3 linked regions of the Homo sapiens genome follow. The protein of the gene in region 1 interacts with the protein of each later gene in a biochemical or structural test. Each region holds a gene or a part of one and is shown in the gene's direction. Other genes may lie near its edges.

Region 1 (7,025 bases):
AAGGTTATTCCTATTGCTTTTAAGATACTGTATGTTGTTCCTGACTGGCATTTTTGCATTTGTTCTTTGCTGACATGAACTGGTTCTTTTCAGCTGCCATGTGAAGACCAGATCATCCTCCTCAAAGGCTGCTGCATGGAGATCATGTCCCTTCGCGCTGCTGTGCGCTATGACCCAGAAAGTGAGACTTTAACCTTGAATGGGGAAATGGCAGTGACACGGGGCCAGCTGAAAAATGGGGGTCTTGGGGTGGTGTCAGACGCCATCTTTGACCTGGGCATGTCTCTGTCTTCTTTCAACCTGGATGACACTGAAGTAGCCCTCCTTCAGGCCGTCCTGCTGATGTCTTCAGGTGAGTACGCCTAGACTCGTTAGTGGGCATCCAAAGAGCTTTTGCTTGTCTAGCGCTAATTCCAATCACTTGAGTTTTCAGTCCCCCTTTAGCTTCAGAAACATAGCTCACTCTTCTTCAGTAAGAAATTGCAGGTTTGCCAGTGGACTGGGAACTTAAAGGGGGGGCGTCAGATGTCTGATGCTTTTTGCAGTGTCCCAGGATAGAAAGAAGCCAAAGGAGCCATCTTAAAGACTCTACGAAGTGATCCGCCTTTGGTGGATACTGTGCAGCCCTCTTCGTAGTCTTTGGCCAAACCTGCCTCCTTCTGGTTTGGGGTATGCCAGATATGGATGTGAGTGACCACACGATTGTGTGTTAAGTTCTGTGTGTGGAAACCGCGGATGCAGGCTAGAATTTGTTCATGGCTTAGCTACAACTGAAGTTTTAGTTATCTGTTGCTAAATAGCACACCGACCCAAAACTTAGTGGCTTAAACATCCAAGATGGCTGGAGTTCAGCTGGGACATCAAACACTGGTTCAGGCCTCCCTCTATGCGGCCTTTCCTCCGGCAGGGTAGACTTCTTACTTGGCTGTTGATTTCCAAGAGAAAGAGTCCCAAGCACACGAAAACAGAAGTTGCAGATCCCATGAGGCCCAGTCTCAAATCACACAGGATCCCTTCATCCACACTGGATTGGCCCAAACAAGTCTGAGTGCCAGCCAGGACTCAACGGTCCCCCTGTAGATGGGAGGATAGCACAGAATGGGCAGCCGTCTGTAAGCCACTACACATCAAACCCTTTCAGGGAAGATAATTTTAAATAGAAGTGGTTTCAGAGTCCTCTGCATTTTCAGGGCACCCAAGTGTAGATGTGCTTTGGCACTTGTCACTCTGCACTGTAACTACCTGCTTCACTTGTCCACGTAAGTCCCTGTGGACTTCTTTTTTTTGAGGACATAGATGTGTCTAACTGTACATCCAGCACCTAGGCCAGTGTGCAATAGAATTCAAGAAATGCTTATTGGATAAATGGCTGAATATGTGGATAAAATATCGGTCACAAGTACATCGAGAATTCTTTGTAGAGTTGCTGCTTCCTGGTTAACTCAGTAGGAAATTTTTTTTTTTTAACCTGAGACACGGTCTTGCTCTGTTGCCCAGGCTGGAGTGCAGTGGTGTAAAGACAGCTCATCGCAGGCTTGACCTGCTGGGCTTAGGAGATTCTCCTGCCTCAGCCTCTCCAAGCACACGCCACCACCCCTGGCTAATTTTTTATTGTTTTGTAGAGAGAAACAGGTCTCACTATGTTGCCCAGTCTGGTCTTGAACTCCTGGGCTCAAGTGATCTTCTCACCTCAGCCTCCTAAAGTGCTGGGATTATAGGCATGAGCCACCACGCCTGGCCTAGAATTCTTTTTTTAAAGCTAATCTAGAAATGTATTTACTATAGGAAATTTAGATATGGCAGACTTTTAAAAAAAGAAAGAAATAATTCTTTTTATTATGGAAAATTTCAAGGGTAAGCAGATAGAATAGCATAATGAACTCCCATGTACACTGTGGCACCCAGACTCCAGACCGGCCTCCTACACTCCCCACCACCTCCTAATGTTCACACCTTGGATAATCTCCTGTCCTTCAGTGTGTGCAGGACCTGTACCTTGCTTCTAGCCAAGAGAATATGGCAAATTTGATGTCACCCCTTGTGATTACATTACATAATCTAAGATTCCCTCTTGCTGGCAGACTTGCTCTAGGGACTCTCCGTGCCAGCTTCATGAAGTAAACCGCCATGTGGGGAAAGTTCCCATGACAGGAGCTATAGATGACCTCTAGGGCTGAGGGTGGTCTCCAGTGACAGCCAGCAAGAAATGGGGCCCACAGTCGTTCAGGAGAATTAGTCTCAAAGAAATAAAATTTATAGCTTATCCAAGGACTCCTTGTGTGACTTTGGGTGACCCCTAGCTTCTCTGGACTTCAGTGACCTTTAAAATGAAGAAATTAAGCTACATACACGGGAATTATATTTCTGGAGGGACTCATGGTAATTTTTTTAGCTGAGATTTTAGAGGTACAAAGACAGTTTTAAATAATGTTGAATCACACCACGAGAAAGCTGTTTCTCTGACGGTTTTCTTCCTGGTTATATCTCCTTCCAAATAAGGCAAGGAGAGAGATTCGGTGTGGTGCTAGTCTGCCTTTAACACCTCTCTTGACACTTACCTTCTTTTTTAACAAAGAGAGAGTGGATCTCAGGAGCAATGTTCAGCCAGAACCTTCAGCTCCAAAGTAACAAAGGCTTTTGCCATGCATCTATTTTTGTGGTTATCTTCTGATTTATGTCAAATGGATTTTTATTACTGAATAATAAGATGTTTCCTCTGTAGTGGGTCAGTTTAACAGATTATTAAGCAAATAATCTAAGTAAGGTAGATAAAAGGAAAAGTAGGTGGAGATGACAAAAACTGTGAATGTGATGCCAAACACTATCAAACACCAAACTGAATGATTCTTCCCAGTTCTCTCATGTTGTGAGGCTGACACTGCCTGACAGCTACAGGACAACTTAATAACTTTTCACAATCCACCCTCCCCAGTGATGTGGACCCTCTTCATTAATACTGCCAGGACCAGAAAAATATTACAAGACATTGTGCATTTGGCAAATGATAGCTGCGTGTCAGGGCCCCAAGTCTCCAGTTCTATCATGGGGCCTGATGTTCTAAGCCCCATGTTTTGTGTGCCATTTCGGTTACACAATATCTTAGACTTTTTCTTCAAAGACTTTTCCAAGAGCCACTACTTCTAAGTTCCTTGGTCCCACAGTGCAAAGAGAAAAAATGAAAATGATCTGAAAGACATTTCTTTAAGAACTTTTGTCTTAAGGAGTTAAAATGGTCTTCAGTCTTTAAAATGTTTCTCTCTTCATAAACCTGTTCAGTGTGATTCAAGCATCATCAAAATGTCAATTTGTACTCGCTATGTCATTTACGTGGCCATCTCGTCTTTATCTCTTTGATGCCACAAAACCCACATTATATTTTTCCCTTTGAAAGAACACATCCAAAGCAATAATATGTTGATCTTCTATTTGGGTCAAAAATTAAAGGATCCTGTGGAAAATTCTTGCACACTCAAAGAAAGAGAGAAGATAGGGGAAAGGGAGAGAGGGAGAACCAGCAAATCTGCAGAGCAGCTTCATCAAATATGAAGGAAAACACAAGATAAAAATGCACGAATTGCCATTTGTGCTAAATAGGGGATTCCAAAAGCCCATATGGTTTGTTAGTTTGTTTAGACTCAGAAGGGTGAATTGAGACATTAGCCCTGATCCTTCCTTTCCAATGAAGCAGAACCCTGTTTCGATTCCTATTGATACAGACACCTCAATAATTGGACCTTTGAAGTGTGAATTCATTTGATCAGAGCCACAAAGAACAAACTGAAGAGAACTTAGCAGGGGCACGTTGGGCCTCCTGGAGCTATTTGAGGAATTCATCCGGGTTTATAGATTATTTTTGTCAGCCAAGTGTCTGCAGCCCAACTATTCCCCAGTTGCCCAGCCTCCTTGTGTCACCCCTTTGTTTGCCACTTTTGGAAACTGACTTGAGCCTCTCCCACATACTATGGGAAGCCCAGTAGTCTGCACAGGACTTGGGAAGATTTGCTGGGCTTTCCAGGGTCCCGGTGTCTTCTCACTCCAGCTCCCACTATAGCTGTTCTCTTCTCTGCATGGGGTGACTCTGGCACAGCTCCCCTCCCCTTTTCATTTCAATTCCAAAATCATGACTAATACAAGGCTGCTACTGGTAGCAATTTTACTAAAGGCATAAGGGAAGGGAAAGGCCAGTTCATTGCAGCCTGGAAGACAACACAAAATTAAACATGGTGTTTCTTGGTCCTCAAGGAAATGTCTTACTATTCCGCGTTCCTCCTTTGGCCTCAGGCCTGCTGCAATGTCCCCAGTCCCTTCATATATCTCCCCCTTCTATGCATGTCCACGCTCATCCTCTCCTCTCTGCCAGGCAGCCAGTGAAAATTCAAAATTGTTCCCCTCATCTTGCAGAATATTTCAGCTATGTCAGGCTTCTCCTTCTGTACCCTAGGAGGGAGGCATCACCTTTCACACTCAAGAAGGTAATTCACACTCAAGCTAAACTGTCTAAACAGAGATATTTATCTGAACAAAGTACTGCCTCTCTTCATATAAATGATGCCACTCCCCTGGTACCTGGTCCCTGGAGCACCAGAGTTCACGCTGCATCCATGCTCATGGCTAAGAGGGAAGACCCTAGATCTGCCCGCCCCCCAATAAAGGCCTGGAATTGGACAAAGCAAGCCTTCCCCCTTCCATCTCTGAATCAATGTCCATCTTCTCTCTTCCCCGCAGATCGCCCGGGGCTTGCCTGTGTTGAGAGAATAGAAAAGTACCAAGATAGTTTCCTGCTGGCCTTTGAACACTATATCAATTACCGAAAACACCACGTGACACACTTTTGGCCAAAACTCCTGATGAAGGTGACAGATCTGCGGATGATAGGAGCCTGCCATGCCAGCCGCTTCCTGCACATGAAGGTGGAATGCCCCACAGAACTCTTCCCCCCTTTGTTCTTGGAAGTGTTCGAGGATTAGACTGACTGGATTCATTCTCATAATTCCTACAGCACTACTGGGTGTCATTTCATTCCATTGCCTAGCTCTTTTTTGTTTGTTTCTTTGTGTTGGGAGGGATTATTTGGGAGGGAAAAGGGAAGTAGTCCTTGGCATAGACATGGATGAAATTGCCCCTTGAATGCGGGTACTTGAAACTATTGCATTTCGTTCTCCGGTCCTGTGATGTGAATGCTCTGAAGGTTTTATGGTTGTGGAGGTGGGGTGGGGGACAATCATTAACTCACCAGCACCAAGCATCACCAGCTCCCACCCGTCCCTGGTCCAAGACTTGAGTCAGCAAAATGGCGCCACAGGACACTAAAGAAGCCTTAAAACCAAGATAATACGACCACCTCCACCCAATCCTGATGTTCGCAGGGCTGAAGTTAACAGAGCACAGACCACCTTTAGTTAGATGTGGCTTTCAGCCTTTTAGGGAAAGACTCGAACAAATTTTCATCTATTCAAGAGCATGCTGTTTGCAGCACTCTTTATGGTCTCCTAGGAGCATAACTTGGAATGTACAGGAATATTTGTGTCCTAAAAAAATCAGCTGCCCTTCCAATATCATTTTTATAACGTTATGGTTTAATTCAAGTTATACAAAGGTGTGACTCAAGGATGTGCAGGTATTGACTGATGGAGGCCAACAAGGAAAATATTTTTTTTCAGTGAGCCCAGAGAAATTAGAAATCTTCACCAATGTCAGTGACTGCATGGTTTCCAAAAATTCACATAGTATTACCTCACAGTAGGAAGGCTTCTTTCCCATTTAGGCTCAGAGAACACTTTTACAGAAATCAAACCTATTTACAGGGTGGCACCCCTTTTCTGTGGCATCTGATCTGTCATCTCCCAAGCTCCTGAAGTTCTTTATCCAGGTTGTATCTTTGCTGAGCTGACAACAGATTTCTCTATGGATCAAATATTCTAATCAAGGAAAGATACGGTGAAACTTCAGTCTTCTTCTGGAGAAATGCTGAGGCGAGATTAGTGCAGCTACATTCTGAGTTGAAGGAAATGCAGTGTTCTGAGGGCCCCTTTGTGTCCTGATGGCTGGAGGACGCTTCCTCCTGGTTAGATCCTCAAGCTCCTTGCCTCATTGACAAATGTCTCCTAGTCCCCTTTTTCCCTCTGACTCTGAGGAACTAAATAGCTTGACTATCTCTAAACAGAGACTGGCCCTGCCACTGACCCTCCTGTCCCTCTCATAGCATACCCTGACAGATACTCAATAGAAAACACCTGCAGACCATGTGCACACTTAACTTTCCTGCCCAACCTGCCTCCCCAACGGCCCATGCTAGAATAGCTTGTGCCCAGAAAACAAACAGTGACACTTCATCTCTTCAGCGTCAGAAAATGGGCATAGAATGTACCCATGCAATTGAATGTATCTCATTCTCCACTGGCATAGTAGATATAAACTATTCCTTTGCCTACCTTTTACTGCCTTATCCTGGAAATATTGGGGAAAATAAGCCATATCAGTGAGATTTACCTAAAAACAAAGGAAGGAAAGTCACTATGGAAACCAAGTAGATGCTTTTTGTAAGTTTGGTGGAGCATAACTGGCCCAGAAGTCTGGGTGCCTGAGTTCTAGTTCGTGCTCTGTCAACTGGTAGATTTGTAATTCTAGGTCTTGGTTTTCTTACCTGGTGAATAAGTCATGATCTCTAAAACCCTTCCTGCCCTTAATATTGTCTGAATTTCAAGGGGAAAAAAAAAATCTGGTTCCTTTAATTATTTTTTTTTAACACTTAAATTCCTAACTTTATTAGACAAGAAGTATGGCCCACTTAACAGTTAAGGAACGTAAATTTGTTATTGGCTCGAAATAATAATTTGACACAATACTAGTCAACCATTTAGAGGCCTTGGAAAAAGAAGAGGAACAGCACTGAAAATTCCAAGTATGATTGGAAATTATCTGGGAGCGGGGAATTAAATATTCAATGCATGAAAGCAATTGTACTGGCTTCTGGGAAAAAGGAAACAAGAACATTGCTATGGAACTTGTTACCCAGAGAAAGGAAG
Region 2 (7,025 bases), on another chromosome or scaffold:
GATTACAGGCCTGAGCCACTGTGCCCGGCCCACGTGTACATGTTTTGGTTTCCCCATTTATCCTATCTAAAGTAGCTCTACTCTTATCTCTTACTTTCTCTTCTCTCACCCTACTTTCTCTTGTTAGCTTTTACTGCTTCCTGAAAAAATACTTGTCTGTTTGTTAGTTGTGTCTCTTGCCAGTTAGACTGTAGGCTCCAAGGATGCAGGGATTTGGTCTGTCTTGTTTATTGATGTTACCTCAGCACCAAAGTGCCTTCTATGTATCAGGTACTTAATGAATAATTGTCAGTTGAATGAATATACACAGTATATTTATTGTATACAAGCATATACAATGGTCATGGAGTTCCACTTTGAGTTTATAAGGCTGGTTTAGAAAATCTTCCTTAGAGTTCAGGAGAAGTCTGGATAGTGTGAACAAGGTAGTTTGCCCCCTGCCTTCATAGTTGGAGCATGGACTGGCTTCATAACTTCATTGTAGGGGATTTTCTAGTCCCCATTTAAAAGTGAAAAATAAGGCCAAGTGCGGTGGCTCAGCCTGTAATCCCAGCACTTTGGGAGGCCAAGGCGGGTGGATCACCTGAGGTCAGCAGTTCGAGACCAGCCTGACCAACATGCTGAAACCCTGTCTCTACTGAAAATACAAAAATTAGCCGGGTGTGTTGTTGTGCGCTTCTAGTTTCAGCTACTGGGGAGGCTGAGGCATGAAAATCACTTGAACCCAGGAGGTGGAGGTTGCAATGAGCCGAGGTTGCACCAGAGCCAGATTCTGTCTCAAAAACAAAACAACAAAAAAAGTGAAAAATAAAAGGGACAAAATTAACTACAAAGTTATTCAGTTAAACGGGGAGATAATGCAAGTAGCTATAGGAAAATCCCAAAGACCCAGTAAATAAATAAGCACTACAGCAAGGCGGGTAGCAACTTTTGTCTAAGTTAGAAATAGCTGAGAAGACTAAAACATGTGCCACATGATTCACCAGGGACTGCGCAGGAGAGGGTCACTGAGGTTTTATTATTCCTCTATTTGCAGCTTCCAGATGGGTCATCTAGTCAGTTGGCTCCCACCAGAGGCTCAGCTTCCAGATCAAGATTAACTGCTTTTTACCACATCAGGGCAGAGGACACCTGTCCTTGGTGTTATTTTCTTTGAAGTGCAGCATCCACATATCACACACATAGCTTTTGAGAGTCATTATTATTACAGTTTTCCAAGAAGCATTTTTAAATGTCTTCTCATGATTGTTGAGGTTTTCCTAAGAGGACACTTCACATTCTTTTTTTTTTTTTTTTTTTTGAGACGGAGTCTTGCTCTGTCGCCCAGGCTGGACTGCGGACTGCAGTGGCGCAATCTCGGCTCACTGCAAGCTCCGCTTCCCGGGTTCACGCCATTCTCCTGCCTCAGCCTCCCGAGTAGCTGGGACTACAGGCGCCTGCCACCGCGCCCGGCTAATTTTTTGTATTTTTAGTAGAGACGGGGTTTCACCTTGTTAGCCAGGATGGTCTCGATCTCCTGACCTCGTGATCCACCCGCCTCGGCCTCCCAAAGTGCTGGGATTACAGGCGTGAGCCACCGCGCCCGGCCGACACTTCACATTCTTATAGCAGAGTTATTTCAGTAGCCCATAGTGCTTTTTGAATTTAATTTAATTTAATTTTTTGAGACGGGGTTTCACTCTGTCACCAGGCTGGAGTGCAATGGCATGATCTTGGCTCACTTCAACCTCCACCTCCCAGGCTCAAGCAATCCGCCTGCCTCAGCCTCCCAAAGTGCTGGGATTACAGGCATGAACCACCCGAGCCTGGCCACTACAAGTCATTTTAAAACAGTGAGATGCTGCCTTTCTCATTATTTAATCTGAAAGAAAGTAAACTTTCTTGATCTTTGAAACGTTAAATCTTTAAGATACCATATGGGAATGTAGAAACTGTTTCTCCTTCTCTATTATATGGTCATTGGGAATGTAAGCAGTTATCCCACAGCCACATCTTTGTAGTTTAGAAAACTCACAGGAAGTATGTCAACAGCATATTTATGTTGGTCAGTGGATATAAGGGTGATGGATGTCTTTCTGAGTAATGTAACTTGAGTATCTTAATACCAATAAGATAAAAATATTTATTTCTGAAACTGTGACTTTTTTTTTTTTTAAGGTGGTCAAGGAGCTGGTCCTCCTCAAAACCAGATGCAGGTGTCCCACGGGCCGCCAAATATGATGCAGCCCAGCCTCATGGGAATTCATGGCAACATGAACAATCAGCAGGCTGGTACTTCTGGGGTTCCTCAAGTGAACCTCAGCAACATGCAAGGCCAGCCCCAGCAGGGCCCACCATCTCAGCTGATGGGCATGCACCAGCAAATCGTGCCCTCCCAGGGCCAGATGGTCCAGCAACAAGGAACCTTGAACCCTCAGAACCCTATGATCCTTTCAAGGGCCCAGCTTATGCCACAGGGCCAGATGATGGTGAACCCCCCGAGCCAAAATCTTGGGCCCTCGCCCCAAAGGATGACCCCACCCAAGCAGATGCTTTCCCAGCAGGGCCCACAAATGATGGCGCCACATAACCAGATGATGGGGCCTCAGGGGCAGGTTTTGCTCCAACAGAACCCAATGATAGAGCAGATTATGACCAATCAAATGCAGGGGAATAAGCAGCAGTTTAACACTCAGAACCAGTCCAATGTCATGCCGGGACCAGCCCAGATAATGAGGGGACCAACTCCAAACATGCAAGGAAATATGGTGCAGTTTACGGGACAGATGTCAGGACAGATGCTGCCCCAGCAAGGGCCTGTGAACAACAGTCCATCTCAGGTTATGGGCATTCAGGGACAGGTCCTGCGGCCACCAGGGCCCAGCCCACACATGGCCCAGCAGCATGGTGATCCTGCTACTACAGCAAATAACGATGTCAGTTTATCTCAGATGATGCCTGATGTTAGCATTCAACAAACCAACATGGTCCCCCCTCATGTGCAGGCCATGCAGGGAAACAGTGCCTCGGGAAACCACTTCTCAGGCCATGGGATGTCTTTCAATGCACCTTTCAGTGGAGCTCCCAATGGAAATCAGATGTCCTGTGGTCAAAATCCAGGCTTCCCAGTCAATAAGGATGTCACGCTAACGAGCCCATTGTTGGTCAACTTATTGCAGAGTGACATATCTGCAGGCCATTTTGGGGTAAACAATAAGCAAAATAATACCAACGCAAATAAACCGAAGAAGAAGAAACCCCCTCGGAAGAAGAAAAATAGTCAGCAAGATCTAAAGTAGGTTGTGATGGTTTTGCCTCAAATTTTATTCATTTGTTTTCTGTGTGGATAACTTTTTTGATGGAAAATTTTACAGAATATAAAACTAGAATAGTATAATGAAATCCCCCTGCTTCAATAATTATCAACTCATAGTCTGTCTTGCCTTCATCTGTACTCTCTTCCATTACCCTTTTGAGTATTTCAAAGCAAATTCGCTGGGTAAATATTTCAGTGTGTGTCTCTAAAAGATAAGGACACTTTTTAATATGCCCGCACAATATTGTTAGCACACCTAGAAAACTAATACTTCCTTAGTACTCTCATATCCAGTGTTCAAACTTCCCTGATTATCTCAAATTTTTTTCTTACAATTTGTTCAAATAAGGATCCAAACAAGATTCATATGTTGCAATTGGCTGGTATATCTCTTAATTTTACAGTGTCGGGGGGTTTTGGCAATCAGAGCCTGAAAAGTAACCAGTGCTACCATATGGCAACTCCACAAAGCACTGACTTTAGGCTTATGATGGCTATTGGGGAACCAGAGAGGCCAAATGTGTTTTGGAAATTAAAACTACTGCTGTCTCTCAAATAGAAATGGTTTTTTTGCACAGGTGCCTTTCCTTTAAAGGCTCTTTATCATCCCTAGAAGCTTAAAACCCCACGCTAAGATGATTGGACCTTTTAAATCAGTTACCCTTTCAGTAAACGTTCTCCAGGTGAGTTATTTTGCAAGATCATAGCAGGAAAGGCAATTAACAATTTATATTTCATTTCCTGAAGCTAAGTATTAATTTGTGTTTCTGGGTTTGATAAAATGTTTCCAGAAGGAATATTCACTGAGCTATATTTTGTGCCTTTAATCATAAAAAAATAATAAATGAGGAAATAATGGCTAATGAATGTAAAACAGGTTAATTGAAATAAATTGTTAGAATTATAGAAAAAGAATCAAGAAACTTTATTTCAACCAGCTTAAATATTCAAAATTAAACCAACTACCTTTATCCCAGCCTTCCCACAACATTCTTTGTACTGTATTATATCATGCTCACTTGCCTCTTCTTGAATCTTATGCTTTAAAAGCTAATCATGGTGTATTATTAATGATAACCTATATTTTCCTGAATTCAAAGTTAATTATCTAATTTTTCTGATAGCTCTTTCTCAGTTAAATTCTTTACTAGCATCAACCTATGGGAATAATTATTTAATAAATATTTTATTCTCTCGGTAGTCTGGGAGTAAAATTGCAAGGTTATTCAGTTGCCTCTAGTGTGTATTTTTTGCCATCTTCACCAGCCCTTAGGGAAATTGGTTACTTAGGTCTACAAATTGTGAAAGGGACCTTACACAGCATCAGGACTCCCAGGAAAGGGAGACAGTGGATTTACAGGAAAAGTACCTGCTTCCAGCTCTACCACTACTTCACTGTGGAATCTTGGGCCTGTTTCATACACCTTTTTGGGCCTTAGTTTTCTCATTCATAACATGATGGGGCTGGACCAGATATCTGAGATTTCTTATCTCTACAATTTTCTGAAAGTAAAGGTTACCACTGAATTCTTGCCTGTAATTTAAAGTGAGAGAGAAGTCTTACAAGGAGCAAATTGTTATAGGTCTGGATGTGCTGACGATCTGCTTCAGGTTCTAAATTTCCATTTGCTGGGAGGCTTTTAAAGTGGATTTTTGTGGCTTATGAAACTGTACAGAGTATAATGAGACAAAACACTACCTAAAAGTGGGTGAACAAAATCAGGGCAAAGGGAAACTAAAGATAGAAAAGAAAAGTACAATTAGTACTGAGATTACAAACAAAATGAGGCCCGTGACCAGTCTTGTTCTTTGAGAATGTGGGTGTTAGTAGCTACAATTTCTTCATTTTTTTCTTCCTTACTAAAAATTTTAAGCTACACCCAGGTAAAAGCAAAGGCATCTCAAAGCAAATAGAGATGTCTGCAAATTCTCATTCTGCAGCAAAATCTTTGTGGTGGTGGTCTCAATCTTTCTTTGTTCTCTGAATACCATCAGCCAACCTATACAACCTTTTGCAAGGTGTTATGAATTGAGCCCCCACTGTTATATCCACAAAAAAGAAACAATCAGACCCCCTAGTTGAATTTGATCGCTACATTGAAGATAGTGTGGTTTCACAGGAACAGTACCTTGTAACATTGATAGTCCTATGATCAGGTCTTAAAACAGCTAAGGAATGGGTGATTACATGAAAATTATTGCACCAGGAATTTGTGGAAAGCATTCTGAGTAAATACAGTGCTGTTAGATTAAATGGATTTTAACATTTAATGAAATTGCCAGATTATTTTTATGCCAATATTTAATATTTTATCTAGACTAGAGAGAGATGAATAATGGTAATGCAAACATTTTAGTTCTTCAGAAATAGGGGAAGGGTTAAGCTAGTTTTGTGTATTTTCTATACAACTTATTCTAAAATATGTCACTTTTTTTTTTTTTTTTTTTTTTAGCACCCCAGATACTCGCCCAGCTGGTCTGGAAGAGGCTGATCAGCCACCGTTGCCTGGAGAACAAGGAATTAACTTGGATAACTCAGGCCCTAAACTGCCAGAATTTTCAAACCGGCCACCAGGTGATAAAATGTTAGCTAGATTATATACTTATTACATGTGCATGTGGCATTACAAGGCTTCCATGTCTTCAAGGAAACAATAGTATTTTATTTTATCTGCTAACTAGTCTACTTCAGTGATTTAATGTGTCTGGTATTTGGAAGCTTTGCCTTGATATTAAGTAAAAATTTCAAATATAACTTTTGAAGGCACATACACACACACATTCTATTCAAATTTGTCTTTGTTATTTTAAGTCCTCATAAAATCGGACTGAAATGTGGTTGGGCATGATGGCTCATCCACCTGTAATCACAGCACTTTGGGAGGCCAAGATGAGCAGATCGCTTGAGCGCAAGTGTTCAAGACCAGCCTGGGCAACATGGTGAAACCTTGTCTCTACTAAAAATTTTTTAAAAATTAGCCAGGTGTGGTGACACGCACCTATAGTCCCAGCTACTCAGGAGGCTGAGGTGGGAGCATCACCTGAGCCCAGGAAGTCGAAGTTGCAGTGAGCCATGATCATGCCACTGCACTCCAGCCTGGGACCCTGTCTCAAAAAAAAAAAAAAAAACCATGAAATGTGAAGTGCCTCTTTATTCTTGTCAATGTCAAGATTCTAGTTGGCATCAGAACAGGATAAGATTAAATGGAGAGATGATTTCACTCTAATCCTGCTTGCCTGCCTTTCCTGCAGCGTTTCTTCCTGGGGCTTCTCAAAGCAGGGAACTACCAGGGTTTAAAACAAGATGATCTTTTTTATAGAAGTTTCATTAATGAGTCTTTAAAATATAAAGAAGATATAAAGAATAAAAGAGACACCCATGTATCTACCACATAGGTTAATAATTTATAATAAATAGGACCAATATTGGAAGCCCCCTTTGTTGTATCCTCTCTGATTATAAAATAATACTATCCTTTAAATGTTGAAAAATTATGTCAAAGATGGAAAAGCTCCTAAAATTAATTCATTCAAACCTAGATATTATAGAACCAAGGCCAGCTGCCACAATATCTCTATACCTGGTTATCTTGGCCTGAGCAATGACTTGTAACTTTATTCCCCTATGACACGGTTGAAGATACACAACCCTTCACACTTAGGCCACTCTCCCCTGTGTGTACAGAGGGTATGTTTTGTTTCTTCCTCACTAGTTATTTCAACTTCTTTT
Region 3 (7,605 bases), on another chromosome or scaffold:
AATTTTTTTATTTTTGTTTTTTGTAGAGATGGGATCTCACTGTGTTGTCCAAGCCGGTCTTGAACTCCTGGGCTCAAGTGATTCTCCTGCCTCAGCCTTCCAAAATGCTAGGATTACAGGTGTGAGCCACAGCATTTGGCACAGTGTTTCTTTTTTAAAAAAAAATAAATAATAGGCTTTTTTTTAAGAAGAGCTTTAGATTTGCAGAACAACTGAGCCGATAGTGCAGAGTTACATGTTTCTCTCCCCAGCTTCCAGTGTTATTAACATCTTAAGTTAGTGTGGTACATTTGTAACAACTAAGGAGCCAGTATTCATATATTATTATTAATTAAAGTCCATAGTTACATGAGGGTTTCCTCTTTGTGTTGTACATTTTGTGAATTTTGACAAATATATATACACACACACACTTATATGTATAATAACGTGTATCCACCATCATAGTATTACACAGAATAGTTTCACCACTGTAAAAACCCACTGTGTTCCACCCATTCATCCCTTCTTCCTCCTTGAACCCCTGGCAACCACTGATCTTATTGTTGTCTTATCTGTTTCCCCTTTTCCAGAATGTCATATGGTTGGAATCATACAGTATATGGCCTTTTCAGACTGGCTTCTTTCACTTAGCAATAGGCATTTAAGGTTCCTTTGTGTGTTTTGGGGGCTTGATAACCCATTTCTTTGTAGTGCTGAGTAATATTCCATTATGCGGGTGAGCCACAGTTTGTTTATCCATTCGCCCAGTGAAGGATACTTTGGTTGCTTCCAGTGTTTGGTGATTACGAGTAAAGGTGCCATAAACCTCTGTGTGCAGGTTTTTGGAGCACGTAAGTTTTCAGCTTAGTTAGGTAAATACCTAGGGGCACAACGGCTGACTGTATGGTAAGACTCTGTTTGGCTTTGTAGGAAATTGCCGAACTGTCTTCTGAAGTAGCTGTACAATTGTGCATTCCCATTAGCAACAAATGAGAGTTGCTGTTGTTCTGCATCCTGTCAGCATCTGGGATTGTCAGTTTTCTGGATTTTAGCCATTCTAATGTATGTAGTAGTATCTCATTGTTACTTTAACTTGCAATTCCCTAATGATATATGATGTTCAGCATCTTTTCATATGCTTACTTGCCATCTGTATATCTCTTTGATGAGTTTTTTTCTGATCGTTTGCTCTTTGATTCAGTTGTTTATTTTCTCATCGTGGAGTTTTAAGAAATATGTATATATATATACACATACATATACACATATGTACATATATCTGTACACGCACACACACACACACACACACACACACACACACACTCTAAAAAAAAATTAGAGACAAGGTCTTCTCTGTCGCCCAGGCTGGAGTGCAGTGGTGAGATCACAGCTCACAGCAGCCTCAACAGGTGTGAGCCACTATGCTGGCCTGCATATTTCAAATACAATCCTTAATCAGATATGGAATTTGCAAATATTTCCTCCCATTCTGTGACTTGTCTTCTCATTCTCTTAACAGTGTCTTTTGTAGACTTTTCAAATTTTAGTGATGCCCAACTTACCAATTTTTTTTTCTTTTACGCATCATGCTTTTGGTGTTCTAGCTACACAGTCATTACCAAACCCAAGGTCATCTAGATTTTCTATGTTATCTTCTAAGAGTTTTTATAGTTTTGCCTTTTACATTTGGGGGTATGTTCTATTTTAAGTTAATTTTTGTGAAAGATAAAAAGCCTAGTTTTTTTTTTTTTTTTGGCATATGGGTGTCCAGTTGTTCCAGCACCACTTGTTAAAAAGGATGAATTGCCTTTGCTCCTTTGTGAAAGATTAGTTAAGTATATTTGTGTGAATTCCTACTGCCTTTTAATTAAAATTTTGGGTACTGTTTATGGGGAATGCTGGTAGTATTTGTTGCAAGCAGATTCTTGTTTTCCCCTCCCTCCAGTCAATAACTGAAAATAAGTGTTTGCAACACACACACGCGCACACACGCACATGGCTAGTGCAGTGGGTTTCTGTGTAAATCACTGTGGACCCCTCGCCCTGTTATCCTTTAGCTTTCTCAGAATACACTACCTCCTTGCCGCTCTACTTTATTTCCTTGTTTTCTCCCACCTTATAGGACTGCACATTTGAAAAATCGTTGAAACAGATTAAATAACACAGTCTAATTATCACCCACCTACAGTCCATCTAGTATTTCAAAAAGAGGAATTTTGGTGATTTCACGATAAATGTAGGCGGTCTCTCTTCCTGTCTTAGGTCTTACAGTGTCCTTTGGGGTCCTGTGAGTCTATGATAAAAGATATTGACTCTTTACGGGTAATAAGGGTGGTGGGATTATGGGGATATTGTCAAACAGTCAAGATGAATTCTCAGCTCTTTTGCATTGTCAATTACAGGAGCTCAGCTGTAAATCCTGGCCACACTGGGCTCCAGTTTGAAAGTGAGGATTTCCACCACTTTCCCATACTTTAAAAGACTGGCATCTGCCAAGTAATCAAAACACACAAAGAGGCCTTTTAACCAAGTTTAGCTTGGAATTTCCAACTGCTAACCACAAGCAGGTCTGGCAAGCTAGGAGGCTGGTTGGCTGCGCAGCTACTCCAGAGTGTGCGGTAGCCGAGGGCTGCGTCCGCGTAAAGCCCAGAGCTGTAATGATGTCAACTTGTTATTTACTTTCCAAATCTGAATGACTGAGCAAGGCGAAAGGAGAATCAATCAACCACAATGTGACCCTACAGGCGGAAAAAACGCAGCACTCCCACCAGCAGGCGGTGGGGGAAGGGAAGCACGTGTAGCCAGGGCAGGGTTGCATCATGAGCTCGTTCGGGTTTTCTATTGCACCCTTCGTTTTTCTATTGCATGTAATACCTCAGCATCAGTCTGCACAAGCCCAGGGAGCCCAGGAGCAACGAAGGGCAGGCTCAAGGGAAGGCCCCACCATGTCCTTCTGGGGGGCCTTGAATGGCAACTGATACATAATAAGACACAATCTATTCTGCTGATTCACAATTATGGAGACTGTGTAAGTGTGTATTTTTTTATTGATGTCCTCTAATGATGGTGTAGCAACAGTCGTTTTGCATCATTGACGTTTTACAGCAATATTTTGCAGGGTAATTTTGAGGTCCGCCGTTTTGGTGGAGGACCGGCCTCTTAAAAACTCACCTCCGGCCGGGCACGGTGGCTCACGCCTGTAATCCCAGCACTTTGGGAGGCCGAGGCCGGCGGATTGCCTGAGGTCAGGAGTTCAGACCAGTCTGGCCAATATGGTGAAACCCCGTCTCTACTAAAAATACAAAAAAAATTAGCTGGGCGTGGTGGCATGCGCCTGTAATCCCAGCTACTCGGGAGGCTGAGGCAGGGGAATTGCTTGAACCAGGGTGGTGGAGGTTGCAATGAGCCGACAGCGCGCCACTGCACTCCAGCTTGGGCGACAGAGCGAGACTCCTCAGAAAAACAAAAACAAAAACAAAAAAACAAAAACCTCACCTTAGGTCCCCCTCCCCCTACAACCAGAACAACAAATGGTCTAGAGTTCGAGGAAGAGCAAGTGAGGTTATAGTTTAGATTGCTGAGTGTACCGGGCTCTTAGCACGAAGCTCATTATATAGTAAAGGAAGGGGCAAGAATATTTGAAAAATATTCAACGAGGCTGACCCCAGAGGTGCTGGGGAGGGGGAGTGGAGATCTGTTTAACTGAATTAAGGCTGCGAGTGGTTGGGAGTAGCCTACGTGGAGGGGAGGAAGGAGCGCTGGGGACTTAGGTACACCGGGGCCAGGCCGTGTAAGCCATTGCAACATAAAGCACTTTGCAAGGGCCAGAGGGCTGATGCCTGGGGGGTTGGGGTGGGAGTGATGAGGCCCGAGTGCCCAGGTCCCCCCAACCTCCTCAGCCCCCACACCCGAGTTCCTGGCGCCTATGCCTGTGTGTCTGAGTTTGTCCCTAAGCATTTCTGGCTCTTCTTGGGAGGTGTTTTGCAAAGGTCGAGGCTCCGCCGGAACCCCCACTTTTTGAGCTGGGGTAAAGACTACTGGGGTGTCTTCTAAGACGCCGATTTTGAGGGAGATTCACCATCGGGCAGGTGGCAGGGGGTTCTGTTGGGGCAGCCGGGTGGCTTCCTTTTTGGGGTGGGGGAGGGTAACACTTTAGCAGTGATCGAGGTTCCCCTGCCCCCTAGAAACTGAGGGGGTGGCCGAGGTTCCCGTCCCCTCGAGGCAGTCGTGGAAAGGCTGGGTTTGGGATGTGATGGGGGTAGCCCTGGGGTCCTCTCAGTCCCACGGAGGCCACGGGGAAGGGACCGGGACCAGAGCAACTAGGGAGAGGCCCGGGTTCCCCTCACCCACCCTAGGCGTGGGGGAGCGGGGCGGGCTTGGTAGGGACGCTGGTCCCCCGACCGTGGGACAGGGGCTGGGTTGGGACGCGGGTCCCCACTAGGAGCCGCGGGGGAGGGGCAGGGCCGGAGTCCCTACCCTCGTAGGGGAGGGGCTGGTTCGGGACGCGGCTCCCCCGGGGCGCAGGGGCGGGGCCGGGTGGTACGCCGGGTCCCCTCCCACGGCCGTGAGGGAGGGGCCGGCGGCGGGGGCGGACCCCTGGCGGTCCTCCTGGCTGGGGTCCGCGCGCTCGCGGCAGCTCCCCGTGGAGGTCACTGTCCGTGCCAGTCCCTCCCGCTGTCCCGCCCTCTCCCGCTGCCGCCGCCGCCGCCGCCGCGCCCGCCTCAGCGCCCCCACTCCGCGCTTGGGAGCGAGGAGCCGCCAGCGCCCCCGCCCCGCCGCCGCCGCAGCGCCCTCAGGCCGCCATTCGCCACCGAAACTTTCCAGCGCCCGCGCTCTCTCCGGGACTCGGCGGCGGCGGGGCGGGGGCGGCCCGGGGGCGGCGCGCGGCTGCTCCGGGGCGCCGGGCCCTCTTCGGCCGCCGCACGGCCGGGACTCGGAGGCTGCCGGCTGGAGGGAGGTTCGGAGCGCGGCCGGGCGCGCGGCGCCGCCACAAGTTGCGCTGCTCGCGACGAGGTGAGTGCGCAGGGCTCGGCGGGCCGGGCGCGGGGTCCGCAAACTTCTGCGGGGAGGCGGGTCCCGCGCTGACCCTCCAGGGTCCGGCCGGCGGCTCGGGGCGCCCGAACGCTCCACCCGCCCCTGGAACTCCTGTAGGTGCAGGTCGCCAACTGTCCCCGCGGCGCTCGGACTGGGGTGCGGCGCGCTCCCAGGAGCCTGAACAATACCCCGAGGTGGCCGCTCCCCGAAGTGCCGGCGCGCCTTGCGGGGAGAGACGGAGGTCGGCGGGGGGCTCCTTTGTTTTGGGGAGGGGGAAGTGGCCGGTAAGTTTAGGGAAGCGCTCGGCTTTTCCTCCGGTGCCCCTTTGTCTGCCGATTCAGGGGCTTGCTGGGCAAACCTGCGCCACCGCGGGCTCCGGGGACCGGGGTGGAGGGCGGTGGCGGGATTTCCCCGCTGTTGGGGAGAAGAGCCCCATTCATACCCGGGACGCGGGCCGGCCCTCCCGGACCCGGGTGGAAGCGCAGCCTCGCGGAGTGGGGCAAGCGGCGGGCGAGGTGGCGCGGGCCCCGTGTCTGCTCAGTTTCTGACGCGCAGAAACTGTCAAGGAAGTCGGGAGCCCCAGTCCTCCGCCCATCTCCCCGGCCTGAGCGCACGGCTGGGCTGGGGGCACCCTTGGCCCGTCGAGGGTCTGCAGAGCGCCGCCCGGGGAGAGCGCAGACCTGTTGCTGCTCCTGGGCTCTGACGGGGCGGGTGGGGTGGGTCTCGCAGATCCTGGGCCCCGGCCTTGCTATCCAGGGGGACCTTCCCTAACGATGGGACCGGTGCTCGGAGTGGAGTATGGGGAGTGCGCCTTCGGGAGTCGGCGCTGGCCGGATATGTGACAACTGTGGGTCGCTGGAGGCCCGCCTGCGCTGGGATAGGGCCTGGACTTCACGTGCGTCGCCTGTGTTCCGTCAGACCGGGGCCGGGGCTCGCTCCCTGCAAGGCCTCGTGTTCCCCCAGCCAGCTGCGTTGGACGTTCCACAAAGGTAGGGACTGACGTTTATTCTCGAGTCAGTGATGTTCTGGAGCAAAACCTAAAAAGAAACAAAAACCTACCCTCTATTGTATTTGCAACTGTTTCTGCTTTGCATTGTCATGTGTGGTTTGACCTGCCTTTTGGATGTTTTCCTCTCCTGAAACATCGCCCAGTCCCTGGTTTAACCTGGAAGGCGAGGGGGAAGGAAGGCAACCTCCCTGCTAAGGTTCCAGGCAGTGGCTTTGGTGTTGGAAGTGGCACTTGACGATTTTATGAAAAGTTTACAAGTCCTTCCTAGAAAAGATGTAATTAGGAAAAATAAAATACAGAAGAACGTTGAGTATGACGCGTTTATTTTAAAGGGTAGTCCTGTCTCAAATGTGCTGCACATTTTTGTGGAAAGCCACCAAGCTGGGTAACTAATGCAAACAACAAAAGTTGTTCATCACTGGATCACCGGCCCTTAAGGCGATTCCAGCCCTTAGTAGAACACACACCTGTAGGGCAAATATGGAGATTTGTGGTGTAGTGCTGCCACCCTCGCTCCCCAACTCTCAGGCATTTTGCCCCTTTACCTCAGAGAACTTCTCTCTGTCAGTGGTTTTAAAGAGGAAACAGTTTGCAAAAATAACTTTATTGTAGACATACTTAGAAGTGAATGTTTCAATTTCTGGAGTTTTCCCATCAATTATATCAGTACCACTGGTTCTGTACAACATCATCTTAGTTAGAAGATTTTTTTTCACCTTTTAAGGTGACGAACAGAGGCGGGAAAATGGTCCCTGCAGAGGGAGGCCATCTCCAGCAGGTCCCGAGGGTCAGGAATTCAGATTATCCGATCTACTCCTGCTGGATAGGAGCACACCTCCGCTAGAACCTGGGTCCGGCCCCCTCCCAGTTTTCTGCAGGGCGTCCAGATTCCGGTGCTCTGCCCCGCAGCAGTGCCCTGTGGGCCTCCTGGCTTAGCTGATCAGCACAGCTTCTCTGCCCAGCGAGGCAGGACCATCCTCCCACTGCTTTCCTGATGCCTTGGATTTGCTTTTTTTCCTCCCTTAGGAAAAGCAAAAAAACCTAATATGCTACATCCGAGAAGTTGTTAATCTTTCACTACCACATGCATTGAAAAATCAGTTCCACCCAGGAAGCAACACTAAAGGCATATTGTAAACACTTTTTTTTTTTTAGTTGGAAAGATAAACTTTTTTCCCCCATAACTATTTTTAGTTAGCCGGAGACTGGACTCGAGTTTTTACCTCCGGTCTTGCCCCCTCCACTCCCGCCCTCACTTTCTGTGGGGCTCGACCACATGGACCATGCTGGCCAGACTGGCAAACATGAAACCCACCAGAACCAAAAGAAAAGCTGGATATGGGAAGGGGCCGAAGAAGTCCACATGTTTCTAAAGGGCAAAGAGCCTAGGCTGAGGAGAGACGTTTCAGATCTCCAGGGGAGAAAGACAGCCGTTAAGGAGTCCGCCGGGCTGCTGCCTGCCTGGCCAGCGGGAGCCTGACTTCAGATGCCTGCGCCTCCCAAGCTGGCCCCCTCCCACACAGCCATCGCCATCCAGTATTTAGGGAGAATCCACCGCATGCCTGAAGGTTGCAGAAGTG

The links. The genes of interacting proteins can lie anywhere in the genome.
Region 2: the proteins of THRB (region 1) and NCOA6 form a complex in vitro, tested with the Homo sapiens proteins (2 studies listed by BioGRID).
Region 3: the proteins of THRB (region 1) and TBL1X form a complex in vitro, tested with the Homo sapiens proteins (2 studies listed by BioGRID).

What each region holds. Positions count from the first base shown.
Region 1 is NC_000003.12:24,120,826-24,127,850, reverse strand, and holds part of THRB (thyroid hormone receptor beta), read left to right. Parts: intron 1-93; coding exon 94-352; intron 353-4,725; coding exon 4,726-4,967; 3' UTR 4,968-7,025.
Region 2 is NC_000020.11:34,745,652-34,752,676, reverse strand, and holds part of NCOA6 (nuclear receptor coactivator 6), read left to right. Parts: intron 1-2,157; coding exon 2,158-3,274; intron 3,275-3,280; exon of another isoform or gene 3,281-3,978; intron 3,979-5,748; coding exon 5,749-5,870; intron 5,871-7,025. UniProt on the Homo sapiens protein: Nuclear receptor coactivator that directly binds nuclear receptors and stimulates the transcriptional activities in a hormone-dependent fashion. Coactivates expression in an agonist- and AF2-dependent manner.
Region 3 is NC_000023.11:9,460,453-9,468,057, forward strand, and holds the start of TBL1X (F-box-like/WD repeat-containing protein TBL1X), read left to right. Parts: upstream 1-4,605; 5' UTR 4,606-4,995; intron 4,996-7,605. UniProt on the Homo sapiens protein: F-box-like protein involved in the recruitment of the ubiquitin/19S proteasome complex to nuclear receptor-regulated transcription units. Plays an essential role in transcription activation mediated by nuclear receptors.